Regions from separate parts of the Homo sapiens genome. Here all the other regions are linked to region 1. Evidence: fine-mapped expression QTL. A gene starts in region 1. Each other region holds a variant in brackets. All regions are shown on one strand. Distances are from middle to middle. Region 1 holds the start of SRD5A1 (steroid 5 alpha-reductase 1). Region 2 overlaps SRD5A1 (steroid 5 alpha-reductase 1). Region 3 overlaps SRD5A1 (steroid 5 alpha-reductase 1). Region 4 overlaps LINC01018 (long intergenic non-protein coding RNA 1018).

The links.
Region 2: its variant is fine-mapped to the expression of SRD5A1 in tibial nerve (GTEx, PIP 0.90).
Region 3: its variant is fine-mapped to the expression of SRD5A1 in whole blood (TOPMed, PIP 0.96).
Region 4: its variant is fine-mapped to the expression of SRD5A1 in whole blood (TOPMed, PIP above 0.99).

Annotation. Positions count from the first base shown.
Region 1 is chr5:6,627,579-6,635,353 of GRCh38, reverse strand. It overlaps SRD5A1 (steroid 5 alpha-reductase 1), which reads right to left and starts at 1,914. Exons shown (of 5, transcript NM_001047.4): 1 at 1,485-1,914. The coding sequence starts at 1,777. It overlaps NSUN2 (NOP2/Sun RNA methyltransferase 2), which reads left to right and starts at 2,310. Exons shown (of 19, transcript NM_017755.6): 1 at 2,310-2,470; 2 at 2,598-2,755; 3 at 3,377-3,481. The coding sequence starts at 2,375. RefSeq lists enhancers at 1,191-1,702, 1,703-2,214 and a silencer at 1,678-2,067.
Region 2 is chr5:6,666,608-6,672,523 of GRCh38, reverse strand. It overlaps SRD5A1 (steroid 5 alpha-reductase 1), which reads right to left. Exons shown (of 5, transcript NM_001047.4): 5 at 1-4,322. The coding sequence ends at 4,256. Among named protein-coding and RNA genes, the nearest start is that of SRD5A1, 36 kb to the right of the region's middle. The variant G/A (reference allele first, on the strand shown) is at 3,795.
Region 3 is chr5:6,673,540-6,681,314 of GRCh38, reverse strand. SRD5A1 (steroid 5 alpha-reductase 1) reads right to left here. Exons shown (of 5, transcript NM_001047.4): 5 at 6,929-7,775. Among named protein-coding and RNA genes, the nearest start is that of LINC02102, 30 kb to the left of the region's middle. The variant T/C (reference allele first, on the strand shown) is at 4,802.
Region 4 is chr5:6,587,383-6,595,157 of GRCh38, reverse strand. LINC01018 (long intergenic non-protein coding RNA 1018) reads right to left here. Exons shown (of 5, transcript NR_024423.2): 5 at 6,658-7,775. Among named protein-coding and RNA genes, the nearest start is that of LINC01018, 9.1 kb to the right of the region's middle. The variant T/G (reference allele first, on the strand shown) is at 3,832.

The DNA of each region.
Region 1 (7,775 bases):
TCAAATTGTAGCAATGGTTGATCCCATTCCAAAAAAAAAATAAAGCAATGGTAAAGAGTTTCAGGCACACAGTACTCACTAAGCCTCTGATGAATGTTGACTTGCCCTTGTTTAAAGTGCAAGTCATCAAAGCACACTGAGGACACAGACTGCACCAGTTACAGGGTAAGGTGCTGGTTTTCAGGGAACTCAGGTACCAAAAACTGTGCTGGGTACAACACTGGTTCCAAGTAGTGGAGCTGTGTACTTTCTCTTCGCTGGAATGCATGACACCAGGAGAAAGAAGAGAGGCTTATAAACACACACTGAGTTCTTCCTGTCTCTCTGGGAAGTGAGTGTTTTAAGGTGGGACCCCAAATCAGAAAGGTTGGGTAAACTGCCCATAGTCACACAGCCAGTGAGTTCAACTTCCTTGGGTGTAGAGACATCCTTTTTAACTGTGAAGCTTTCCAGAGCCTGAATGAAAACGTTTAAAATTTAATTTTGAACTTTCGACCTGTCGTTTGCTTTGGCTGTGTAAAAGCCAAAAGATACGACCTGGAGAGAACCCCAACTTATTAGAAGGCTTGAAGATTTCAGACACAGCCAGTTTTCAAATATTCAAAAAAACAAAAACCTTGAAAGATTTAGAAGTCATCTTTAAGACTTCGTTTGTTTAAGGTTTAAGGTTGCTGGCTTTCCACCCCCACAATCCTGGGGTCCCTTGCATAAGGTGGACATGAAAGTCTCTGAAAGTGATCAAGCCTATAAGGAGAAACTGCTAGGCAGTTTTAGGACAGCAGGTTTCCAGTTGCAGCTGATCACTTGGCTGGGAGAAAACAGCTCCACCATCACCAAAGATACCAAAAGGGGAACCGGCAGAAAGGAGTAGAAACCAGTGGCCCTCAAGACCGACCATCAGCATTAGACTCTAGGCCAACCCCCTCCCCCCCGCCCCCACAGTCGTGATCTAAGGGAACAAAATCTAGTCTTCATTTTTATTTTACATTTTTACTTTTTAACTCTTTATTTTTATATATTTAATTTTGAGACAGAGTCTCGCTCTGTCACCCAGGCTGGAGGGCAGTGGCGAGATCTCGGCTCACTGTAACCTCCGCCTCTCGGGTTCAAGCGATTCTTCCATCTCAGACTCCCGAGTAACTGGGATCACAGACAGGCGCCACCGCGCCCGGCTAAGGAAACCAAACCTAGGACCACTGAGTGGCTCTTTCCAGATCAGTTTCATCATGTTTTTTTCCATCACTCCCTTCCAGTCCTTTGTTTCCCGCCCTTTCCAGACGAATCCCTTCTGGTTTCCAAACTCCCGGGGCCGGGGGACTCGGGGAAGGGCACCCGTGCAGATGGGGGACGCCCCGGGGGATCTGGCAGGGAGAGGGCATCTGGGTGGGGGAGGCTTCGGGGAGAGGGCACCGGGCAGTGAGGGGAGGGTCGGAGAGGACGCCGGGCCGGGAGTAGGGTAGGGGGCCGGGGGCCGGGGACGTTACCGATGCCCGTAGTGGACGAGGAACATGGCCAGGAGGATGCAGTTGGGCGCGCTGCGGAGACGCGGGGCGGACTCGCTGGCGTACTGGTAGAGCGGCAGGGCCAGCGAGGGCAGCTCCTGCACCACCCAGGCGGCCCGCGCCGGCACTCGGAGCCTGTGGCTGGGCAGCGCGTGGCGGCCGTACACTGAGTTCGTCTGACGATTGCGCGCGAAGACCGCGCAGCCCACGGCGCACTGCAGGTAGGCGAGCGCGGCCAGCAGGCGCTCCTCCGCCACCCCCGTCGCCGTTGCCATCGCCAGGGCTGGGCAGCGTGCTCCATGCCCCAGAGGCCGCGGCGGGCAACATATAGGGCGGCGGCGCGGGGGCAGGAGGGGCGGCTACCGGAGGGGCGGCTACCGGAGTCCCGCACTGCCGGGACTCTGCAGAAAGGGTTCTCAAGTCAGGCTTCTCCGGGGTAGCCGGGGCTGTGGGTGCGGCCCCGGGGGCGGGGCGAGCACTTGCGCGGGGAGGGACCTGCAAGCGCCCCACCCACGCCGGGGCCGCAGTAACCCCGCGCCGCTCTGCGCACGCGCGGCTTCAGGCTGTCCGCGGAGCTCCTTGAGCCCGCGTGGGAAACCTGGGCGCTTCGCGCGGAGACGCCTTTGTGGCTGCTTCCTGGAGCATTTTTTTCCCCTTAGAGCTGTTCGCTGTTTTCCCTGTCACGCCGCTTTTCTGAAAGACGGGTTGTGCGCTTTGGGCTTATTCCTGGACGGTCCCCAAAGGTCCCCGAAAGGACCAGGCCCGGACACGTGGGGCCTTGGTTTCCGGCCGGAAGTCCCGGGAGGTGTAGGGCTAGAGTTCTGGCCGTGGCGGGCCGGTTTCTGCGTGCTGCGTGCGCGGCCGCGTGGGCTATGGGGCGGCGGTCGCGGGGTCGGCGGCTCCAGCAACAGCAGCGGCCGGAGGACGCGGAGGATGGCGCCGAGGGTGGTGGAAAGCGCGGCGAGGCGGTAGGAGCCGGGACCCGGCGGGCGGGCCAGGGGCTCCTCCTGGGCTTCCCGGACCCCGAGGCCTGCGAGGCGGCGGCGAGGGGGCGGCTCCTTGGGCCTCGGGGTAGACGTCTCTTTCCTTCCTCAGGGCTGGGAAGGAGGCTACCCCGAGATCGTCAAGGAGAACAAGCTGTTCGAGCACTACTACCAGGAGCTCAAGATCGTGCCCGAGGGCGAGTGGGGCCAGTTCATGGACGCTCTCAGGGAGCCGCTCCCGGCCACTTTAAGAATTACTGGTTACAAAAGGTAGGGAGGCAGTGCCTGATTTTTTGGGAGTTGGGGCCAGGATGCTGGAGGTTAAAGGCGACGGTGTTTTCTTCGACAAGTGTTACAGTGCCAGAGAACCGTGGCGTTTCAGCGGTTTGGATTCAGGAAGCATTGAGGTGGGGAGCACAGGGTCCAATGAAATGGTCACGGAGGTATTGCAGGCGCAAGGTTAGAAGACGAAATGAAAATGAGATCTGAGGAAGATTCGGCTCCTGGGGAATCTTCCAGGAGGGAAGCTGAGGGTCTTACCTTTTGGAACGTAAGAGAATTTATAGAGAATGCATAAAACCCCTTGGTTCTCCCCTCCTCCGCGCCCCCCCTCCATCTTTGTAGTTACATCTTTCTAAATGAGTCGCAAGTAAAACTTAACGGTAGGATATGCTTAGGAGAGAAGGAATGCAGTGTTGCTCTTAGGGCTCAAACAGTGTGGATTGCTTAAATTTTGAAGGCATACAGTGTAAAAGTAGTGACTAAAGAATGTTTACTCTCCATGCAAAAGTTGGTTTTAGTTTTAAAACACTTGCAGTCTTAAATTTAAGAAGATACAATGTATTAACTTAGTTTTTTAGATCAGTTTGAAACTTCCTTATTTTTCAATAGCCACGCAAAAGAGATTCTCCATTGCTTAAAGAACAAATATTTTAAGGAATTGGAGGACCTGGAGGTGGACGGTCAGAAAGTTGAAGTTCCACAGCCACTGAGTTGGTAGGTACCACAGTGCTTCATGCCGAATATTTATTTGGGATATTAATCTCTATCACTTGAATTATATTTCTTGGTACTGCATTTGCTGTTAAAGAGCTTGGGTATACTTTGCAAACATCCTAATGTTCTAGTACCTGGTGCTTTTATCAACATTATATTGCTACGCAAGTTTTCATGCGATTTGCGATTTGCAGCTTTATGAGTCACTGATTTCAGCCAGCTCTTCCTAGTACATCCAGCCTCTTCCTTTATGTCACCACTTCCGCCAGCTCCCTTTTACAGCCCTTGTTTTCTCACATCAAAACTGTTGCAGAGTGGCTGCTTTGCCTTCAGAAAAAGGACAGACTTAGCTTGACAACAGTCTCCTGGTAGGTAGTCTCTTAGTGTTTTCCATTACAGACAGGTTACCACTGTCTGCTGTCAGGTTGTCTCCTGGTACTTCGCAGTACAGACTGCACCAGCCAATGTAGCATTTCCGAGTCTCAGCACCCAAGCGTGCTACTACTCTGGGAGCTACCTCTTTCTTGACCTGTCCTGGAGGTGCCTTCTGGGTTACCTATTCCTCATGGCTCGGTTCTAGTCTCAGTTGTATGAAGGTGATCCCTTGTGCTGATAGCATCTTGTAAAGATGCTTGGAGAACTCCGGAGGCGCCAGTCCTTCAGTTAACTTACATAAGTGGGAAAGTCGTTATTATTAACTTTGAGGTATTGAGTTCTCAGAAAAGTAATGCACGAAAAGGTGAATTAAGCCGTTTTTTGTTTGTCTGTTTGTTTGTTTGGAGACGGAGTCTCACTCTGTCGCCCAGGCTGGAGAGCAGTGGCACCATCTTGGCTCACTGCAAGCTCCACCTCCCTGGTTCACGCCATTCTCTTGTCTCAGCCTCCCGAGTAGCTGGGACTACAGGTGCCCGCCACCACGCCCGGCCAATTTTTTTGTATTTTTAGTGGAGACGGGTTTTTACCTTGCTAGCCAGGATGGTCTCATCTCCTGACCTCATGATCCGCCCACCTCGGCCTCCCAAAGTGCTGGGATTACAGGCGTGAGCCACTGCGCCCTGCCAAATTAAGCGTTTTGCATCAACTTTTGAGGTTTTGACTATTCCAGTACGTAGTGTTATCTTTCCTTTTTGGATAACCTTTAGTGTTCGCAAATCAAGGTCAGATTTTCATTAATCATGGGGTACAGATTTGCTTGTTTTTCTTTCATTGGCTATTTGGATTTTCATTGTCCCTATCACAGATAAGCATATACATTCACAATGAATGCTGACTGGCCAAACATTAAGTCAGTATTCAACCAGTATCAAGACCGAATATCACCATCATGGAATGTGTTGCTGGGATATAGGAATAAATATGACCAACATCGTGAAACCCTATCTCTACTAAAAATACAAAAATTAGACAGGCATGGTGGCACACGCCTGTAATCCCAGACACTAGGGAGGCTGAGGCATGAGAATCGCTTGAACCCAGGAGGTGGAGGTTGCAGTAAGCCAAGATCATGCCACTGCACTCCAGCCTGGGCCACAGAGCGAGACCATGTCTCAAAAAGGGAAAAAAGAATAGATATGCCACATCTTAGATTTTTAAAAGCTTGAAGGGTACAGTATAGGAAAATGATACGGGTGCTACGTTGCTGTTAGTGGTCACTAATTGTCCACTGTAGTGAGATCAGTGGAAAAGGTAGATGTTTTTCAGCCTCTAGTTATGGCATTGCTGAGATGAGGTAACCTTCACGAGATCAAGCTTTTCTTCCTCCTGGTAACTAGGTTGTAGACTTTGCTCAAGTCGTTTGGTTTGAAGATTTGATTGACGACACTGATTGTGTTGTACTTGAAGTAGAGGTCTGATACTGTAGTAGTCCATTTTCACACTGTTATAAGGACATACCTGAGTAATGTATAGATAAAGGAAATAGGCTTAATTGACTCACATTTCCACATCGCCGGGGAGGCCTCAGGAAGCTTAAAATCATGGCGGAAGATCTCTCTGCACAGGGTGGCAGGAGAGAGAATGAGTGCTGAGCAAAGGAAGAAGCCCCTAATAAACCATCAGATCTCCCCCTGAGAACGAACTCACTGTTGTGAGAACAACATGAGGGAAACGGCCCGGGGATTTAATTATCTCCACCTCGTCCTGCCCTTGACACGTGGGGAATATTACAATTCAAGGTGAAATTGGGGTGGGAACACAGAGCCAAACCATCTAAAATATTTTAAGAAGACAGGATTACGATTCTCCTCGGGCATGTTTGTATTTTTAGCAGTGATGCATGTATGTGCTGCTTCACACAATCACCTGGAAACATTTGTTTCTAAAACCTTGTGTTTAGAAGCGCAGAGACGGGATAAGAAATGCTTTTAAGATGAAGAAGTTCCTGTCCAGGAGGAACGTTTCAGCATGTGTCTATAGGGAAGAGGTGTGCTCTTAAGGCACCTCCATGTGGGCATTTTCTTCTGCAGGCTCCAACAAACTAGGAGAAACCATACGATGTCAATAAGGCTTGCTAGTTTTTTATTATTCTCTGCAAACTACAGTTACACTTGGATTTGATCAGCCCTTTTAACATTTCATAGCTGCTTTTCCACCTTGTTTAACAATGTGTCTGGGTATATGACAAGGTAATTACCAAACTCTTAGAATCTGCAGGTTGTCTGTAGTTGAAGAATGAAGGTGAATTGCTCTCTGCCAACAGCCAGCTATGTTTTTGTTTGCTTTAATTTTCTGAACACACAGCTGAAGGGTATGAACAAAACATTGTAGATCTGGGTTTCTAATATTTGGCTTTTTCCATTATCAATGATGGTTTCTCTATATTTTATTTTGAGACAGGGTCTCACTCTGTCACCCAGGCTGGAGTGCAGTGATGTCATGACGGTTCACTGCAGCCTTGACCTCCTAGGCTCAAGTGATCCTCCCACCTCAGCCTCCTGAGTAGCTCGGACTACAGGTGCATGCCACCACGCCTGGCTAATTTTTTTTATTTTTTTGTAGAGATGGAGTTTCACCTTGTTGCCCAGGCTGGTCTTGCATTCCAGGGCTCAAGCAATCTTCCTGCCTTGGTTTCCCAAAGTGCTGGGATTACAGACATGAGCCACCATTCCTGGCCAATGCCAGTTTCTTGGCAGCTGTATTCTCTAAACATTTATTTATTCAAATTCATCTGTCAGTTTTAGGGTACTAAATCTCTCAGCAAGCAAGTAAAGCAGAAGCTTTCCAGGACTTCTGGTAATTTTCTGTATTGCTCAAGATGCAGGAATAGATCATGTAATATTCTTCCCAATCCTCTGGTACATAGTGAAATATAATTTAGGAAAACGTTTTTTGAAATTACATTTTCTAGAAGGAAAGTTATGTATAGGACCATAGCTTGGGCCAGTTTCATTTTTTTCTTACTTTCCATAGACTCAGAACAATGAGAAATTATCCTAAAGCATTCTTATAGAAGCATTGTTTTGACAACCAATTGTTCAGAGTGCACCTTATTATCATTCTATTTATGTGCTGTTTACTTATATTTTTTTTTGAGACAAGGTCTCTGTTGCCCAGGTTGGAGTGCAGTGGCATGATCTCAGCTCACTGCAACCTCCACCTCCTGGGCTCAGGTGATCCTCCCACCTCAGCGTCCCAGGTAGCTGGGATTACATGCCCCCATCACCATACCCAGCTATTTTTTCTATTTTTTGTACAGTTGGGGTTTTGCCATGTTGGACAGGCTAGTCTTGAACTCCTGACCTCAAGTGATCCGCCCACCTTGGTCTCCCAAAGTGCTGGTGTTACAGGCATGAGCCACTGCACCTCGCCTGTTACGTGCTTTTTAATGTCTAGATTGAGGATGGTTTGTCATAGATGTTGTATATATTTACAGAGTCCTTACCACTTGAGAATTTTTAATATGCAAAGATGACAGTGGTCCTTTTAACTTATCCTCTAAAAAGCCCAAATAGGATTTTTTCTTAAAAGACACAAGCTAAATTTGAAGTAAGTAACTAAAAATTAAATATACCTCTCATTTTGTTTGATGTTAAAATCTACAAAGATTTAATAAACATTTTTTGGTTCATAAAAAGATGATGCTGTTCCTAAAGCTGTATAAGAAACATAATTTAAAAACATTTCTTGTAGAAACAGGGCCTCGCTTTGTTGCCCAGGCTGTTCTCTGTACCCAGAGGAAATAAACATTTATCTGTTAGTTTCTGTTTGTATTTAAATATTTCAGAGTTCCTAAATGTTTCTTTACATGAGATCAACAGCCTTCACAATTATAAATACTGTAGAATTTTAATCTTGT
Region 2 (5,916 bases), 38 kb before region 1:
GTGGGTGGATCACTTGAGGTCAGGAGTTCAAGACCAGCCTGGACAACATGGTGAAACCCTGTCTCTACTAAAAATACAAAATTAGCTGGGCATGGTGGCATGCACCTGTAATCCCAGCTACTCGGGAGGCTGAGGCAGAAGAATTGTTTGAACCCGGGAGGCACAGCTTGCAGTGAGCCAAGATCGCACCATTGCACTCCAGCCTGGGTGACAGAGCAAGACTCCGTCTCAAAACAAAACAAAACAAAAAACAAAATAATGCAACAGTCAGGAGTATCAACAGCTAGCTTTACCAGGACACTTGGGCTGTTTCAATATCTAGTTTGACATTGATTATTGGAATTATCTGCTCAGAGGCATGCCACTCCAAAGAAGTAACTGCCCTCAGTGAGACTGCATGAACAGAGGCTGGTGGCTGTTGGCCCAAGATCATAAATGGGAGCCTGCAGTGGTCAGTGGATTGTTCAGCATAGTCCCTAAAGTCCCGCCCAACTCACAACATCAATTATTTTCTTCCCTAAGCACCAGGAAATAACAAACGTTCATATCTCAAAAACGTATCTGTAAGTCAACATTTTCAGGAATCCTGCTGCAAAAAGGCAAGGGGAACAGGGGAGGGCAGGCAGCTCTTTATGTCCCCACGAGGCTCAGTGGTGGAGAGAGGACCTGGAATAGGTCGATGAATATCTTTTTTTCCCATAAGTTATTGGGGGTACAGGTGGTATTTGGTTACATGAGTAAATTCTTTAGTGGTGATTTGTGAGATCCTGGTGCACCCATCTCCTGAGTAGTATATACTATACCATATATGTTGTCTTTTATTCCTCACCCCCCCTTACCCTTCCCCCCAAGTCCCCAAAGTCCATTGTACCATTCTTATGCCTTTGTGTCCTCATAGCTTAGCTCCCACATATCAATGAGAACATAGGTTGTTTGGTTTTCCATTCCTGAGTTACTTAACTTAGAATAATAGTTTCCAACAATAAAAACAAAGATAAATAGATGGGACTTAATTAAACTAAAGAGCTTTTGCATGGTAAAAGCAACAGTCAGCAGAGTAAACAGACAACGCACAGAGTGGGAGAAAATCTTCACAATCTATACATCAGACAAAGGACTAATATCCAGAATCTACAACAAACTCAAACAAATCAGTAAGAAAAAAACAAACAATCCCATCAAAAAGTGGGTTAAGGACATGAATAGACAATTCTCAAAAGAAGATATACAAATGGCCAACAAAGTATGAAAAAATGCTCAACATCACTAATGATCAGGGAAATGCAAATAAAAACTACAGTGCGATACCCCCTTACTCCTGCAAGAACGGCCATAACCAAAAAAATCAAAAAACAGTAGATGTTGGCATGCATGCGGCAATCATGGAACACTTCCACACTGCTGGTGGGAATGTAAACTATTAGAGCCACCATGGAAAACAGTGTGGAAATTCCTTAGAACTAAAAGTAGAACTACCATTTGATCCAGCAATCCCATTACTGGGTATCTACCCAGAGGAAAAGAAGTCATTATTCAAAAAAAGATACTTGCACGCACATGTTTATAGCAGCACAATTCACAACTGCAAAATCGTGGAACCAACCCAAATGCCCATCAGTCAACAAGTGGTATATATATATATACAATGGAATACTACTCAGCCATAAAAAGGAATCAATTAGCAGTATTTGCAATGATCTGGTTGATCAATATCTTAAGAAAGGTGGTTAAGCTTTGGTTACAGCAATGGCCGATAGAGAAGATTATGGCTGTATCAGACACAAGTGAGGGTCCCTTCCCTTTTCCTTGCTTTTATTCTTGTTATTTTTTTCTACCTAACATTATTTTAGCTACTTACTTGTTTCTTACCTGTCACTCCACCTGGGCCAGGACTGTTTTTTCTACCCATCCGTCCTCAGCACCCACTGCTGTGCTTGATATACAGTAAGTGCTTGGCAAATGTTGTTGAATGCACAAATGCATGCACCGCTGGCCTTGGAGACTAAGGAGGAGATGGGTACAACTATTGTTCTCTGCCTCATTGGATTTTAGCTTTGGTCATGATAGCAGTTGGCTGTGGTCTTCCTACAGATAACAGCAGACAGGGTCTGGACGGAAGGAGAGAAATGGGCTTTTGGGTTCCAAGTTCTGTCAGTGTTGGGTGACTGAAGTCGTGCACAGAGGCCTCTCTGAGGGAGAAGCCATGGCCATGCCACCCCCTGGCTTCCCTGCAGCTTGAGGCAGGAGGTAACCAGCCATTATGGGGCAGGATCCCTATAGGCCAAAATGTGGAGACTTTATTTTTTTCCTGGGATGCCAACACCTAGTTCTCTGGTTTTCCCCACTTAGTTAATTTTTGTGTTAGGAAAGGCCACCTCCTCAGCCTACCTTCTCTTCCCCGGCAATGGGCACATGGCTCATTTCTGGGCTCTCTGTGCTCTCCCTGGAGAGTGGGGGTGCAGAGGACACTGCTTTCTGCTGCAGGCGCCATGTTTAGTTGGTCTCACTTTGAGATGCTCATTTCCCTCTGCCTTCTGTCAGCCCAGATGTGAGGACCCAGGGTCTCCGCAGGGTGTGCACTGTCATGGCCTCTCTGCTCTGCCACATCAGGCCCATCTCCACCCGTGCTGTGGTCCATCTGCAGTGGTGACTCTCTCTCACTCTCTTTATGGGGCCACTCCCCCACCTAAATTCCTTTGAGGTGATTTCAACTGGGGTCAGAATAGAGAGGGGAGAAGGAAAGGTGTATGTTCAGCTCATCAGATTTAACTGGAAGCTCTCAAGGCTACTTTAAAAATCATAAAAGCCATTCCCAATAAGCTTGTTTGTTTTAAAGGAAATCTCCTTTCCAAATCACTGTAGATAGTAAACAGAAGAAGTTGAAAAAACCAAATAAAAACAGGAAATATGATGAAAGAATGTTTCGATGTAACAATTAGTAAAAGAATTTGAGCTACCTTGTTAAATGGCAAAGTCTATTTATTATGTTGTTAAAGACAACTGAAACAAATGGCATTTAAAAACTCCAGATGAGATGATAAGGCAAAGCAATGCCAGATGAATTCATCAAGATAAAAAGCAGTATGGCAATGTTTTTATCAAAGTAGAATTCAAGTCATGAAGCATTCAACAGGAAGATTATTTTATATTGATAACAGGTACAGGCTATGAGGGGAAAGCTTTGCAAAGCAACAACAGCAAAACAGAAAGCAAAAACTATTAGAAGGAAGATTAGCTATGGAAGAAAAAGAAGGCTGTAGAGAATTTTAACAATTATTATGTTTCAATCAACAAAGAACAAACAGGATAAATCTTAAAAAGTGGTCTTGTTATTGTTACAGAAAGTGATCATTCTTTACACTACAAGGGAAAACTCAAAATCTACAAAAGAGAAATTTCACAGACAACAATCTCTACTATATCCATACGTGGGGAACAGAACAAAAAAACTAGGTCTAGACTAGAAGACAGAGAGAAACCATGTCAGACCAGAGCACATTGATGGCTCACGGTGAGTGACCCATGGCCTAAAGGTGCCTGTTTAGGGCCCAGGAGCCACTCACACAGGCAGAGCAGCTTACTCCGTATGAACCACCACCAGCACCCCTCCCTGCCCGGTGATGTCACCCGGTGGGCTGGGCTGGAACAAGTCCAGATGCCTTTGCCTCACCTTGGAAGGGCCACGAGGAGCTTCCTCCTCTATCCCCAAGTTCTCCACTTACACACAGCACCTGACACGAAGGTTGGCAAGTTTCCCCCGGGCCATGACTGCACAATGGCTACCCCCAGCCTCT[G/A]TGGCCTCCGAGAGAGGGCTCCTAGACAGATTCCAGCCCTATAGGGGGAGGGAAGCAACACTGCAGTTGACCTTGAAGAGATCACTGTAGGGGGCTATAGAAGGGATTGTGACATTTATTGTTCTGAAAATGCCATCAAAGACAGTTGTAAAGTCTAGTCTCATACACACTTGGCAAGACATAGCCAAAAGAGGTAAATTTGAAATTAGAAAAAATATCAGCAGTTATTACCCAGAGCTTGAAATTCTGACCTGTTACACAGTAGGATATTCAACCTCCATTTCAGCGTATTTAGGTACTTATTAGGTAGATTGCAAAATTACTAGAAAAAAAATTCCTAGAGGACATCTTGAAAATGATAAAGTAGCAGGAAAATTACAAAGATATAACTTATTTACAAAGTCCATAGAGAAGCGCCATTGGAAAGCTTCAAGTTGAAGATAATTTCATGAAAAACGCACTTAAAACAAAAATGGAATTATAATTTTTCTGAACTTTGGATACTCTTCAAATTTCCGGAGGTACCACCTAAGAAAAAAAAATTAAAAAAGGAAATAATTCTGTCGCTTAGACATTTAACCAATGCTAACAAAAGTGACAATATTTTTCATTACAAAAGAGTACTCAGTTTTTTAAATGTAGTAACAAAAACTTTGGCATTTCATACTTATAGTTTAATTTTGCCTATTATCATGAAGAATTAAATATATCTAATCATAAAGTGTGATTCAGAAGAAGTAGCCCATAGAATTCACCTTTCTATCTGGAAGGAAAATTACTGACATTTGATGAAAATACTGATCAGCACATTGCGGAGCTGTCTTTTCAGCCCCCGGGGAAAGCATGCAGGCTGGAGGAGGGGCAGGACCAAGTAGGTGCTTCCTGAATACCTGCTGGTGACTCCAGCAGTTTTCTCCAGCCTGCAGTTGGGAACTACTGGCCTAGCCCAGGGTGTGTAGAGTGGGCACCCAGCTGCATACCAGGAGGCTCATGAACGCTCTTAGTAAGGATTCGGTGAAATCTGGGGAAATGCAATATGGCATTGTCCACCATTCAGCCTTGTGCTCGAAACAAACATTATTTTCCGTTTTGATATAAATTGTATCAATGCAGGCGTGCTCATTTGTTTTGGGGATAATAGCCAGTTGGGAAAGGTGGCAACTAAGTGCATGGAGTAAAAATTAGAAATAATTTGACAAGATGGAGAAAGGGAGTTTCTATAAACACACACAGAAAGATTAAACAACAGACTAAAAATCATGATAGAAAGCAATTAGCTCATTGTTAATGTGGTAGAAACATATGAGGACGAGAAACTGAGAGGGAGTTGGCAAAACCCTGCTGGTCTTAGTTAAGTTTAACACCGGAATCCACAAATAGAGAATTCGAACATACTGGGCGGCCACGTTTACTTTTGTATGTTCTGTGTCCCCAAAAAGGCATGTAATAAGAACAATTCTAAGAAGTCGGTCAGGACTTCCGGATCAAGCGTCACTTCCCCTGGCATGAGGCCTCGAGACTGCAGCCTTTCCAGCTACGTGGCTCAGTGGTGGCGCATGGACCCACGAGTGCCCAACACACAACGTGGCCAAGCCTAACAGCTGGTGTCAAACCTGCGAAAGTGCATTGCAAACATGTTCGCTGGTTAGAGGCTGAAGGTGTTCACAGGCCTGCTGGGATCCAGGCCATCCAGCACTTGCAAGTGCTGAAGAGCTTCCCCATGGGCCAGCGGCACTGGCCGCCGCACAGTGACATAGCAGGTGAGCGCCTCTCTCCCAGAAACTGCCCGTGGGAAGATGGGCACCCTGGCCCGAAAAGGCAAGGGCAGAGTACATGACAGCAGGAGAGCCTGAAATGGGCAAACACGAGAGGGCAGGTGGGAGATGGGAAACACAGGACTGCCGCAGGATGCCGAGAAAACGCGCCCCCCCACCAGGCTGGGCAGCAAGGCTGGGCTCCGTGACATCAGAAAGAACATGTGTGAGGTCAGGGTGTTCTCACACAATGAAGGGATGTTGGCTGAAGAGGTTAAGTGTATTTCACAGAAACCATTATATAGAAATAAAATATTTATTTTTAAATGATTAAATTTTTCTTACTCCTTAGAATACCTTTAAATTTT
Region 3 (7,775 bases), 46 kb before region 1:
GTTATTGCAGCCTGAGCTAATATAGTATCGAAAGTTCCTTCCTGATCATCGAATTCAACCTGCATAATTCCAGCCATATAGAGGGTTGGTATAACATTTTCCAGGATGTCAGAGTAATCAAGTTCCCCACAGCCTAGGTTATGGCAGAGTGAAAAAAGGTGAACACGACTCTGAGGCGGGACTGTGAAGGTGTATTGTTGGCCCTGCTGGGTAAGCGCAAACCCCTTTGCATACAGTACTTGCAAATTGGAAAAGAAATTGAAAGCATTTGTCAGATCAATAGCTGCCTATCAAATACCAGGAGCTGTGATAATATTTTCCAATAAACGTGGAAGAGCAGCTGCTTTTGGATTCACTGCCTAATTAAATTTATGGTAATCCACAGCCCATACCTTCTGAAAAAGCTGAATAGGTAAGCTAAATGGGGACGTAATAGTCTTTCAAGTTACTCAAAGAGAGTAACCTGGTCAAAGTTTACTGCAGAAATACTGCCAGTGCCACCATTCTTATATCTTTGAGGGTCATGCCAATCTCTGCAGTCTACTCAGGAATATGGTATTACTTTGGGTTTATTGTCCTAGAAGGAAGGAAAAGTTCCAGGAATTCTACCTGCTGTTTCCTCCCATACTAGCTCTTATTCCAAGCATCAGAGAAGCAACGTGTGTAGTCTTTCCATTTCTGATGGCATGTATTCCACCTAATCTTGGCAGGCACTGGAAAATAACAGCAAAGTGGACCCATGGCCAACTGGACCCACTGTGGAGCTTAGGCAAAAACTCCATTTATCATTTAAACAACATAAGCCTTCCCTTTCACTAGTGAAGCTCACTGTTATCATTATTCCCACAAATTAGCATCAATTCAGAGCCATCATCTAGCAATTCTCCAAATTCTGAGAATTTCCTTTTCTCCACTGCACATTTGTCCTACTGAATGGACACTGGTCCTTTGGAGAGTGCTTGGAGAAAGACTGACAGAATAAATACGTGGCAGCATTGCAGGGTCTTTAGTTGTATACCTAGTAGTTCAGTAACAGTACTGTCTTCCCCCTTGGACTCCAAGATCCGTCAACACAGAGGTATGTCTGCTCAGCTCACTCTGAGATTCTCAGAACCTAGCACAGACCCAGACACAGAGGGGGCTTGTGAATAATTTCTGAATGAATGAAGCAGGGATGAGCTGAGGGAAAGAAAGCGACACGATGCTGGGCCCTATGCACACAGGTTTGGGATCAAAACTCCAGCTGCTCATAAAGTGTCCTGTACTCAAGCTTGTGCATCTGTCTCCCTCAGGCTCCCCAGCGCATGACAGCTTCATAGAACCAGGTTCCAGGTGTTCAGAATTCTGAGTGTTGACCATCTCAATCTTTTTGTGGGCAGAGACAGCCTCTTTTTTCCTACTTACCTCACTGTAAGTACTTACCTCTCCATCTCTGGATTTAGCCATGGCTCAGCTCCAAGGATGATTCTGGACTGAACACATAAAGGATGGGAGAAGCACCAGCCCAATCTCTGAGCCTGAGTGTCAAGTCACCCCTGCCACTTGCTTGAGTCTGACTCATGCCCTCTATGTGTGCGTGGACATCTGGGTGCCCTGGAGTTGGAGGCTTTGCCCTAACAACCTGTGTGGTCCCTTGATGGCTAGGATCCTCTTGGTCACCTTCATCTCCCTATTCGTCTTACCAGGTCCTTCTCCTCATCTCTTGCCGGGGGTCTTTTGGTGGAGTTCCCTGATAGCTATTTAGATTTTCAGTTGGATCCCATGCTTTGCATTTTATTTTTTTATTGTTTTATTTTTATTTTGTAATAGTTTTAGATGATCAGAGAAAAGTTTCAAAATAGTACAGAGTTCCCATAAATCCCTAGGGCAATTATCAAATCAGGAAATCGACAAGGGTACTGCCCTTTTAACTAAATTGCAGATCTTATTGAAGTTTTGACAGCTTTTCCATTAATGTCATTTTTCTACCCCAGGGTATGATACAGGATCCCACATTTTGTTTAGCTGTCTTGTCTCCCTAGTCCTCTCCAGGCTGTGATAGTTCCTCATTCTTTTCTTGTCTTTCATGACCTTGACATAGTTGAAGAACACTGGTTAGGTATTTTAGAATGCCTCTTCATTTGGGTTCTGGGAAGTATTTTTAAATACAACATTATGTCATAGTATTTCTGGCCTAACATCCATGCTTCCATATCACTTGCAGAATAACATCTTCAACTTGCCATCGGGACATAAGGACTCCTTATTATGTGGTCCTGCTGTCCTTTCCTCCTCTTTTGCACATGGCCTTTGGAATCACCAAGTCCTGCAGCCATCCAGAAACTATCCTGAACCCCCTCTAATAAATATGTTTGAGCATTGTTGTCCTTTCTTACCTGAAATACTTTTCTTCCTTCCCCCTTGTCTACTTTGTGAACTCACAATCATTATTCAATACTATGCTATTCATGCAAGTAATGTTAGAAGCTATAATAACTCCCAAGTCTCAGTGGCTATTTTAGTCAGGGTTCCCCCAGAGAGATAGAGCCAGCAGGATATATGAAAAGGGATTTTTTTTAGGGGGAACTGGCTCACATAATCACAGAGTCAAAGTCCCATGATAGTCCAACTACAAGCTGAAAAACCAGAGAAGCCAGTGGCTCAGTCCAAGTCCAAAGACTCAGAACCAGGGAGGCTGACAGTGCAGTCCCCATTGAGCCCTAAGAGCTCCCAGCAGGCTGCTGGTGCCAGGTTCAGAGTCCAAAAGCTGGAGAACCTGGAGTCTGATGTCCAAAGGCCAGAGGAGAAAAGTGTCTCTTTCCAGAAGAAAGAGAGAAAGCAAAGAGGACCAATCTTCCTGCCTGTTTGCCCTAGCAAGGCGCCAGCAGCTGTAATACCCATATGACATTGCTCAAAGTCAATCACATGGCTTCATCCATATGCAACAGGATTGGGGAATGTGGTCTTCTGGAGCCTGGGAGGAAAATGAACAGTTTAATGAAGGCAGAGTTATCCACCATTCTGGTCACCAATTGTTTTGCTTCTCTTCCCATATGATAAAACTTGCTCCCCCTCTGCCCAAGGGAGAGAGCAGAGGTGCCCACCCAGTCATGGTATGTAGTTGGAGCCCAGGATACCTGAGCCATTCAGGACTCTCCACCAGAAACTGAACTGCTCCTGCTCCTGTTGGTCTGAGCGCCTATGATCTGAGTGATGTGCTATCTGCCACCCTGCTTTCCGATAGACAGTGATGGTTCAAGAACAGAACTGTGTGTAATTCTTCCCTTTGGAATGGAAATCTCATGTCCATCTCTAGCCCACAGTTGTACTTGAGTCCTGTAGATGTTGCATGGTGATGTTTCCCTGTTCTTAATGCTGGGAAAATTCTGATTAGATCCTGTTCTTGTGTCTTCAGAATTCACCCTCTGGGGGCTCTTCTTTCCACATTATTATCCACAGTCACCTAAGAATAGATGTTGGCCAATGTGTTTGGCTTGGGGCAGTGCAGCTTTTGGAAGTCACTTTCTGTTCAGGAAAGACTGGGTACTCAAAGATTGTTTTTTAAGTCTCCAATAGTCAAAGAACTTTTTGGTCCAGGGTTATGGTATTTTTTGGCAGTGCAGTTGTCTCAAAATCTTAGTGACTTCTGATCTATTTGCTTCCAGTCAATTTCATACATCAGTAACCACATTTAAAGACCTTTCCTGGACATTGTTCTCTAATCTCCTTTGGTTCCCACCTCTTCTCCACGGTGTTCCTCCCACTCAGTGGAATGGCAGCTTCTTTCATGTCACTGGGCTTGAGTGGGAAGTCTATACCCTTACTCACATATTTGCCCTGAGTTACTTTAATTAGCTTAGAAAGTTCACTAGATCTTTGTCAGCTCAAATAATTTTTTATTTTCATGTTTCACTGTCGGGACCAAAAGCAGTTACCTCTTACAACCCTATAAGGCCCTAAATTTCTGGCCTCTTGTTACCTTTGGTTTTCTGTTTTCAAAATAGCCAATTACATCTGTGCTCATCTCTTTCTTGTATTTCTTGCCTTTCCAAAGAGAATAAATTCCAATTTGTACACATTTCTAACATTCCATTATCCAATAACTGCCATGAGCCTATAGTGATGGAGTCAGCCTTCCAAGTTTCTGCACATGACCATTTGCCAGATGTCTTGTCACTATGTAACATAGATGTCCAGTCACCCAGCATGCTGTTTCCACCCCACCTCTTGTTCAACTGCTAAGAAAATGGCCAGATATTTTTGTTACTGCAGCAACCCACTTCAGAACACCAATTTCCATAGTATTAAATAAATCATGCCAGTTGTTGCAAACGACCTCCAAATTTTAGTGACTTAACAAAAGTTTATTTCTCACCCACCTGTTGTCTAATGAGGATGTTCCAGTTGAGTCATCCTTCTCCAGGCAGTGGAGTGACTCAGAGATCCAGGCTCTTTGCATCTTGGGATACTGCAGTCCCCAACATGTAGCTTCACATTTGCCACAGGAGGAGAAAGAACTGCATGTAAGAGACATTTCATGGGATATCTTGGAAGTGTCACACATCACATTTGCCCACATATCCACCTTGGTGAGAATTAGTTTCATGGCTCTACTCGGGTATAAGGGTAAATGTGATCCTCCTGAGTGTCCAGGAAGAGAATTAAATGATCAGCAATAATTAGAGCTATTTCTGGATTATTTCTGCCATGACTGTTAACTGGTGGCAAGTCAGGATGGGCTCCCCTCGTCCTTGATCCTTGTCTTGGGAGAAAGAATTCAGCCGAGAGACAGAGGTAGATGTAAAGCAGACATGACAGTTTA[T/C]TGAAGCAAAGTGAAGTACACTTGGAAGGGACGAAGCGGACAACAAAACATTTGAATGCTTTGCCTGATTGTTGGCTCAGGGCTCTTATTTATAATTTCCCAGTTTCTCCCAATCTTCTCCCCTCATCTTTCCCTTTGGGTGGGCTGTTGGCTAATTGCCAAGTGCACAGTGACTTGCTAGTGTATGAGGGACCACGTGTGTCATTTGGTGGTTGAAGCTATGTGCATGCTGTCTTAGGACAATTTTCCCTTACTGGTCTAGCACCCCCAGAGGAAGGTCATATACGGGTCAAATGCTGCCATTTTGCCCCTTACTGTGCATGCTTAGACATGTCCCAGAGGAAGATCAAACTTCACCATTTTAAGTTTTTCTTGGGAAGTTGTTGCCCACAAGCTCAAGATGTCTCCTGTTTGTTAGGAAAATTTCCCCTCCCTATTGCCAGCTCCCTGGCTGTCAACAATCACCCAACAGTAACCTGACAGTCACCTGATGTTCTTTGGGGCCCTATGCTGCCCTGCTCATATCTGCCTAATTACCTACTCTACCATGACCATCTCAAGTGTCACCTGATTTCTTTGGAACCCCCATGTAGAATCAGACATTTCCCTCTCTGCTTACATGTGTATTGTACCTAATTTGTATCATAGCACCTACCGTGTTGTATTAAAAATTATTTTTTTGTTTATGCACTTATCAGGCCATGAGCCCCTTAAGGCTAAGATCTCTCTCGTATTCATCTTCATGGCACCAGTGCCCCAGACTCTGTGCTGAATGAGAGCTGGTGGAGCAAATGCTGAGATAGGAAGGAGGACAGGCTTAGAGTGGACCTAGAGAGTCAGTCCTCTCCAAGAGCAAGATGGGGTTTCTCTATTAGTAAGAGAAAAATTGGGGTTTTGTATATGACATATTGTCTAATAAAAATGAAAGCATCATTATTTTATTTTTCATTTAATCAAGAGGGAAGCCTGTTCCTCCTCCCTGCCCCCATACTTGCTGTTCACTAGGTAGTTTAGCATTTCCCAATGCATTATTCTCTACACAATGTAAGACCTCAGTAGAGGCCATTAATTATGTATTTTTGAATAACCTCTTGTCCTGAATGAAACTGTTACTTTTGGTAGACAAAAAGTCTCTAAAATGTGGGTACCGGAAATTCTCAGGACCCAAGCTGCTATTCAGTACTGGAATGGTGGCATGTGGGCTCTCTGTCCTCTGAAGATTTAGGATTGTGCCCCAGAGCTTCTCTATTCAAGAAGCCCAAGATAGAAAAATTTCCTATTCAGGCAGAACCATTTCCAATTAACTGATGGAAATACATGGAAATGAGGAACAACAGCACATTTGTTTGCTATTACTCTAAGGAACAAAGGGCTCGTGATGAGCCCGCACGAAGGGATTCTGTACGTCATCTGAGATGTCTCCTGGCTCCCAAGGACAGGGCCTGTGGGTGTGGAGAAGGACGCTTCCCAGCGGCCTGCCTGTCCTAGTGGATGGAGGGAACTGGCCACCACGAGGTCAGATGGGCCACCTTCCGACAATAGGTGGAGGAGGACACCATGTCTACGGGACGTCATCAGAGGTACAGACATCACAGGCTTATATTTATCTAGACAGTTTTCTAGCAGATGAAAGTGAGTTTTCTGAAACATCAGAACAGTGTGACAATTTTCTGACAGGTAGATGTGAGGCATCTGGAAGAAGAGCATCTTTTTAGGATTGTCCCCAAGGTGCCACCTGAGCTTCCTGCAGCCAAGGGGGCAAGCCCTTCCCACCAGTCCTAACTCTCCCCTCTGGCAGGGCTCAGCCTGGGGAGGAGACTACATTGTGAGGAGGAGAGGAGCATGTGGTCTGAAATCTGACTCCAGGGAAATTGGCCTCTGGTTGTGGTTGACACACCTGCCTTTGCAAAATCTGTCTAGCACAAAGGCACCAGAAGCAGCTCATGGAGTTACTGACCACCTCTCACCAGAGGCAACAGAGCATAACCCCAGGAATCAGAGCACGGGAGGATGGAAACCTCAGGGGCGAGGCTGGCAGAGCCTTCTCCCACCTTCTGCAAGTTTACGCCCAGCCAGCTGACTCCATCACATGGAGGACAAAAAGTCCATCCAATGAGCAAAACGCTCTTTTTCCACTCAGTTTTTTTTTTAATAGATTTAATTTTTTAGAGCAGCTTTATGTTTACAGAAACATTGAAAAGAAAGTACAGAGTTCTCACATATCTCTCTCTCCAACACGATTTCCCCTATTAACATCTTGCATTAGTGTTGTACACTAGTTACAGTTGATGATATTAACATAATAATAATAAAGCAAAAATTAAGTAGCATCTAAATTTAATAATTAAATAACATTTTAGATAATAATGAAAATAAGTAAAATAAATCATTTTAATTAAATAATATTATTAATAAAAATCCAGAGTTTACATTAGCATTCATTCTTCATGTTGTATATTCTATGTGTTTTGAAAAATGCATAATATTCTATATCCATAAAGTATCATAATAATAGTTTCACTGCCCTAAAATTTGTTTGTATTCTGCCTGTTCATCCCTCCCTTCATCCAAAACTCTGTTCTTTTTATTGTCTCCATAGTTGTGCCTTTTTCAGAATGTTATACAGTTGGGATCATATAGTATCTAGCCTTTGCAAACTGGCTTTTTTCACTTACCAATATGCATTAAAGTTCTTCCTTATCTTTTCATGGCTTGATAGCTCTTTGTTAAAAAAAAATCTCTGACACTAGTATTCTATTGTATGAATAGATTTTCCTCATAGAAATAGAATTGGATACAATTTCTTTATCCGCCCACCTATTGAAGGACATCTTGGTTGCTTCCAATTTTTGGCAATTTTGAGTAAAGCTGCTATAAACATTCATGTGCAGGTTTTCTGTGTGGACATGTTTTCAACTCCTTTGGGTAAACACCTAGGAGCAAATCTACTAGATTGTTTAGTAAGAGTATGTTT
Region 4 (7,775 bases), 40 kb after region 1:
GACTGGAGAGGCCTCACAATCATGACGGAAGGTGAATGGGGAGCAAAGTCACGTCTTACATGGTGGCAGGCAAGACAGCTTGTTCAGGGGAACTCCGACTTATAAAACCATCAGATCTTGTAAGACTTATTCACTACCATGAGACCAGTGTGAGAAATCACCACCCCCATGATTCAATTACCTCCCACAAAGTCCCGCCCACAATACATGGGAATGATGGGAGCTACAATTCAAGATCAGGTATCATATCAACCACAATTAATACATTTAGAAAACAGAGGAGACTTTATTTCTTGTAAAGGTTTCAGCCTGCAAGGTGGCCATCCTGCAGCCTGGGAAGCACAGCCTCCAGCCAAGACCAGAGAGAAACACCATGGAGGAAGAGAAGCTGGGACAGGAGCTTTATGCCGAACTGGTTGGCTAAACATGCATATTCAACAGGTGACAGGAGGAGCTATGAATATTCAGGATGGTCCTGGCACATGTGTATGGGACAAATGTTCGTGTAACATACCACCCATGTTCACTTTGGGATGGAGACTTAACATTTAAATGTACTACAGTTAGACCCTATATGTCAAAAGGTCTTTTCAGGACATGAAGGTGTCCAAGTGTACAGCCAGCCAGGACCAGTTCATGGTCAGGAGAAAGTTACTGGAATCAATCGCTTTGTACTACAGGCTCTTTGTAGTATACAAAGAGATTTCAGTAAGTTCAAGTCAAAGCTGCAGTTATGGCTGGTGGAATGGGGTCGGTTGGTTAACGTCTCTGAGCTGGATGAGCTGGAATTGTTTAACGTATCTCGAGGCCAGTGCTTGTTTAGTTGCTAGAGAAAAATACCCTTGGCCGTTAGAAGAAAGGTTAGGGATGTGTGATGTAACCCTTGCCTGGCATGGCCTTGGGTCCTGTTTACAATCTGGTATCTTACTGCTACAGAGAGTCTATTTGCCAGTCTTAAGATCTCTGTGTTAACATTAATGTCGGTCAGTTGTGTCTAAACCACAAAAGGGAGGGGGTAGAATGAGGTGTGTCTGACCTCACATCCCACTATGGCTGGGAGTTTAGTTTTAAGGTTTTTCTGGGGTCCTCTTGATCACAAGGAGTCCATTCAGTCAGCAGGGGGCTTAGAAGTTTATCTGAGTTTACAGAGACTTGGAAGCAGAAGACCCAGTTAAGCCCTGCCAGCATTTGTGACCTACAGAAGTTGTGAGATATTAAATATTGTTTCAAGCCACTACATCCTGGGGTAATTTGTTACAAACCCATAGATGACTGATACAGTCACTTACTTCTTGACTATGTGACCCTGGGCAAGTTTCTTATCATCTCTGGGCCTTTATTTCCTCATCTATAAAATGGGCAGATGGTAGCACCTACCCAGTAAGGTGTGCTGAGGCCTGAGTTAGTGAATACGTGTGTTGGGAAAAAGCTGAGTGTTGGGAAGAAGCCGAGGCAGGGCTTGCATGTCTGACATAAAGTAAAAGAGTCTTGGAACATGTCCGGGGTCCAGGGTCTAAAACCCCTTGTGCCCTTTGGCACACCAAGCTCTGTGCTAAAGAGTGGAAGGCTACCCTGACGTACCTAATCTAAGCCCAGGGCATAAAATCCCTCGTGGCTTGGATAGAATCCAGGGCTTGTGGCTCCGGAATGTGTCTAGGCTTGCTGGCTCCTTGCTCCTTGCTCTCCCAGGATCGATTGTATCTTGAGTTAAAAGAACCTGCTCTCCATTATCTCAAGTAGAGCAAATGCTAAACCATCACAGCTATAAATCATGTGCTTGATGCAACACGCCCTTTTGACCCCCACATTCTGGCCACCTCCTTCTCTGTTGGATTACCAATAAATAGCGTGGGCTCCCAGAGCTCGGGGCCTTTGCAGCCTCCATGATCGCGATGGTCCCCTGGCCCCACTTTACTTCTCAAACTTTTTCTCAATCCTTTGACTCTGCCAGACTTCGTCACCCCCACGACCTGGTGTTGGGTCTGATCACCCCAACATATGTGCAGTGCACTGAGAACGGCACCTGACAGCTAGTGTTTCAAGGTGGGGGCTGGTTGGGGTGCGAGGTGCTAAGACAGCACATTTACTGATAATCATTTATTTATCTATTTGCTAGTGAATAAAACTTTTTGACTGGGGGATCCAAAGATAAGGTGGGTGAAGCATATAGAACTTAAATGTCATCTTTGCTCACATATTTGCCTGCTGCAAAATCTTCAATACTAGCAGAAACTAACATAGTCACTGAATCACAGCCCTGAGAACCAAGGAGCATCACATAGTTCATGTGTTCTTGTTCTAATTTCCTTTTATTGGTCTGGGGAGGAGGTACCTCGTGCCCTTCTGCTGAGCTGTCAGTGTCAGGGCACCCTGGAGCTGGTTGCAGCGGGAAACACAGAATTGCATAACTGACTGCTTTTTAATGTCAAACACGAATTTCTACTACCTACCTCTCACATCCTCAATGCCAAACTTCAGCATCAAAGATTATTTTAAACTACCTTATGAAAAACTAATAAAAACTAGAAAACATTGGCCCTGCACTCCAAGTATCCAAGCACCCGGCAATTGATGCAAATTTGTGTTCTGATTAGGTCATTAGGTTATTTATAAGATAATTGTTGGTGTCAAGAGAACAACTTCACTTTACAATTAAAATTGAAATATCTGTGGTATGCTTTTCCAGGTGGATTTTGGTTACAACAAATGACATTTTCCAGTATCAAGATCTCTGAAATTTCAACCCATTTTAAACAACTACAATATAAAGGGTCCAGAGAATGTACTAATGGGATATTACCAGAACCAGCACACAGATAAGCCTCTTCATAAAACTGATCACCTTTCACGATCGGCCCTGCCCATTTGTATATTATGGTGTGTGTTAGAACTTGTTAGACAAATCAATCTTTGGAAGCCAGTTTCCCTGGGAAACACTCTGCGCTAGAGATTTGCGTGCAGGAAGTTTGGATCATTCCCTGCAGCTGAGTGAAAGAAGCAGGGTTGGGTGGATGGGGCTGAAGGAGACATGGGGCTGTGTCGCAGGCATGACAGGCCCCAGCGGGTCCCACGGGGTGCTCTGGAGCTGCATGACGTGGCAGAGTTGGGGTGAGAGTTGACACCGCACCTCCAACATCAACCAGCCGTTAGATGTGGGGTGTGGGCTGCCCTGGGAAAGATCATGACTTCGGCAGGGAGACTTTCTTCAGCTGGGGGAACTCCCCAAGAGTGTCCCAGCTACCAGCTGAGACTGTCTCAGCTCCTGGACAGCTCCAGACCTGAAGACCTCCTTATCTGCTCCACCACTTCAATACGTCTGTTCACATGGTTGAGTAATGATTAGAAAGACAGCAATAGGAAGTATAACCTCCAAATCACTAGAAAAGAAAAGTCACAAAATTGCATCAGTCTAAGGAAAGAGAAGAAAGGAAGAAAAAAGGATAGAAGGCTGGGTGCGGTGGCTAACGCCTGTAATCCCAGCACTTTGGGAGGCCAAGGCAGGCGGATCACGAGGTCAGGAGATCGAGATGAGACCATCCTGGCTAACACAGTGAAACCCCGTCTCTACTAAAAATACAAAAAACATTAGCTGGGCGTGGTGGCGGGTGCCTGTAGTCCCAGCTACTCGGGAGGCTGAGGCAGGAGAATGGCGTGAACCCAGGAGGCGGAGCTTGCAGTGAGCCAAGATCGCACCACTACACTCCAGCCTGGGCGACAGACCGAGACTCCGTTTCAAAAAAAAAAAAAAGATAGAAATAGCAAGAAAACATACTAACCAGAAAATGCAAAACAGCTCACAAAATGGAAATAAGACTGACATACGTAGGCAAA[T/G]GCTAATGCAAGATGCAGGTGTGGATACTTAATTTTAATTATGTTTTGAATAGTTAAACACTGAGTTCAATATTTGAGAGATTCAGCTCTGTGAAATGCTCCCTCCCACCCCCTTGCCCAGCCCCATCCTCTGTGGGCAGCCAGCAGTAACAGTTTCCTGTCCATCCCTCGAGATATTCTGTGCAGATAGGTAGATATGATTTTCCCCTGTTAAACATTTTTTTTTTTTGAGACAGGTTGTCACTCTGTCACCCAGGCTGGAGTGCAGTGGCATGATCTTGGCTCACTGCAACCTCCACCTCCCAAGTTCAAGTGATTATCCTGCCTCAGCCTCCCCAGTAACTGGGATTACAGGTATGCACCACCACACCCAGCTAATTTTTGTATTTTTCATAGACATGGGGTTTCACCATGTTGGCCAGTCTGCTCTCAAACTCCTGACCTCAAATGATCTGCCTGCATTGGCCTCCCAAAGTGCTGATATAGGCATGAGCCACCTTGCCCAGCCGTGTTACACAAATATTGACATCTATTCAGAATGTTTTGTTCCTAGGATTTGTTTTTGTTTAATCACAGGTCTGACAGATCATTTCCTATCAGTACATAAGGAGGTCATTCTTTCCAGAGTGGCAGAGGGTCCCTTGTTTATCCAGACCCCTGTGAATACATATGTGGATTACTTCCAATCCTTTGTTATTACCTACAAAGCCTGCAATGATAACGCTGTACCTTTCATTTCAAATATTGCACACGTGTGTGCGTTAGAATAAATTCCTAGGAGTCGTATTTATTGGTCAAGGAGTATGTGTGTTTTAAATTATGATAGGTATTAGGTATGTCAATATATCAAAAAAACACAGTTCATGGCAAGACACAGAAAATAGGGGAACAGGGAAACTTTCTACATTTGATATTTATAAAAGGAATAACCTGTCAAGAACACATGACAGCACTTAATCTTAAAGCACCTTACAACAATCACCACAAACACAAAATAATTCAAAAAGAACTTAAGCACCTTACAACCACCACCACAAATACAAAATAATTCAGAAAGAACTTAAACAAGCACCATACAACAATCACCACAAACACAAAATAATTCAAAAAGAAATAAGCACCTTGCAACAATCACCACAAACACAAAATAATTCAAAAAGAACTTAAATAAGCACCTTGTGACAATCACCACAAACACAAAATAATTCAAAAAGAACTTAAGCACCTTCCAACAATCACCACAAACAGCAAATAATTCAAAAAGAACTTAAACAAGCACCATACAACAATCACCACAAACACAAAATAATTCAAAAAGAACTTAAGCACCTTACAACAATCACCACAAATACAAAATAATTCAAAAAGAACTTAAACAAGCACCTTACAAGAACCACCACAGATACAAAATAATTCAAAAAGAACTTAAACAAGCACCTTACAAGAACCACCACAAATACCAAATAATTCAAAAAGAACTTAAACAAGCACCTTACAACAATCACCACAGATACAAAATAATTCAAAAAGGACATATAAAAGCACCTTACAACAATAACCAAAAAATACAAAATAATTCAAAAAGAACTTAAAAAAGCACCTTACAACAATCACCACAAATACAAAATAATTCAAAAAGGACATATAAAAGCACCTTACAACAATAACCAAAAAATACAAAATAATTCAAAAAGAACTTAAAAAAGCACCTTACAGAAATAATCAAAAATAAAAAATAATTCAAGAAGAATTTAAGCACCTTATAACAATCACCACAAATACAAAATAATTCAAAAAGAACTTAAACAAGCACCTTACAACAATAACCAAAATGCAAAATAATTCAAAAAGAACTTAAACAAGCACCTTACAACAATCACCACAAATACAAAATAATTCAAAAAGAGCTTAAACAAGCACCTTACAACAATAACCAAAAAATACTAAATAATTCAAAAAGAACTTAAAAAAGCACCTTACAACAATAAACAAAAAATACTAAATAATTCAAAAAGAACTTAAAAAAGCACATTAGAACAAAATATTGGGTAAAGCAAAAACTGTTACCAATATAATAAGAAATAGACAAATCTACGGTTATATAAAAAATTTTTAATACTAGCATCTAACAGAAATTGACAAAATACAGGGATTTGAATATCAATTAACGAGCTTGAGTAAACACAGAATAGTGTGATAGAACACATGGTACAGGTGATCAATAACTCAAAAGCATATTCTTTTGAGAAGACCAATAAAATAAGACAAATATATGTTAATTGCTCAAGGAAAACAGAAAGAGAGAAGGTCATTACACTAATGGAGACTCTTACGCTTGCAAGAACATACTAAGTCCACTTGCACACCAATGGATTTGAAAATATACATGAAGTAGAAATAGCCAAGTAGGCACAAGTTAGCAGCATTGTTCCAAGAAGAGAAAAGCCTGAGTAGGAATAATATTCATAGAAAAATGGAAAAGGCATTTGGAGATCTACCCATTTTCATACCCTTTAGCCCCAAGAAAAGAGGCACTAGGCCAGGGAGGTTTCCAGGTAAGTGTTACCACATTTTCAAGAAAGATCTATTTTCTGTGTTAAACTCATTCTATAGAAAAAGCTGGAAATTTCCGCCTGCCATTCTGTGATGCTAGCATATCCAGGAGACTCACGGTAGATGAAGGTACCCACAGAGGAAACACTAACACTCTTACCATCGCCGACATAAATAGGCCTCATAAAACATCAGTGGCACAAATCGAGCAGTGATTAAAAAAATGAGCCTGTCACGATGCATTCATGAAACATAAGGAAGTATACTCTCATATAATGACATGCTTATACATTTATTAATCATTTGTATGATAAAATATATATGAATTTACATCTTTAATATGACATAAGGAATTATAAGGAATATTATGAAGTTAAAGAATAAAATATAATTATTGATACACTAAAATCCAAGATTCATTCCTTATTTTAAAAAATAACAATAAACAAGAGTAAAAGGAAACTTATTTAATTTGATAAGGCGTATGTACCAGAAATCCTGTATCAAGCATCATACTAACGGTAAAATATTTTGTTTTAATTGTTAACATTTTAAATGTATTTAAAAATAGAGAGGGTTTCTCCATGTTGGCCAGGCTGGTCTTGAACTCCTGGCTTCAAGTGATCTGCCCACCTCGGCCTCCCAAAGTGCTGGAATTACAGGCATGAACCATTATGCCTGGCCTTAACGCTAAAATCCTAAAAACAGAAACAAGGTAACAGATGTTGCTGTCAACATTCCACATCTGAGGTGCAGCCTTGGGAAGATGAGACTAACACTGCCCCTATTTGCACTTCATATAATTATCTATGTAAGAAAATAAACTGAAAAGGCATAAAAGCTCACAATAGCTTAATAATTTTTTAAAGATGAAAGACATTATAAGAATTTTTTTAAAAAGTGACACACTGGGACAAAGTATTTGCTGTGTATGTTAGACACCCCACATCCATAATATGTAAATAGCTTCTGCAAATCAATAAGAAAAAGATGAGTCATTTGAGAGAAAATTTGGCAAAGGAGTAATTTGCAAAAAAAAGAAAAGGACATACAAATGGCCGATAAACAGCTCCACTTATACTAAAAACTAAAAAATGATAATATGAATGAATTTAAATTTTTACTCTTCAAAGTGGTACAAGTTTAAGGAGTAGAGACATTCAGCTAAGAGGATGCTACAGGGATATGGGTACTTTTGGAATAGCTGGGTCTTCTTGCAAGGTGGGCTTTCCATGTGCTTCTGATCCAGAGAGGTGGTGGTGTTTGTGTTTGACGAAGCTGCTGACACTGCTGTGCTGACATCTGGCGAAGTGAAGGTCTGAGTACAGAGAAGGTGGCTACTCTAAGACTTCCACCGCAGTAGTTGCAAAAAGCCAGCAAATCAGATGGAT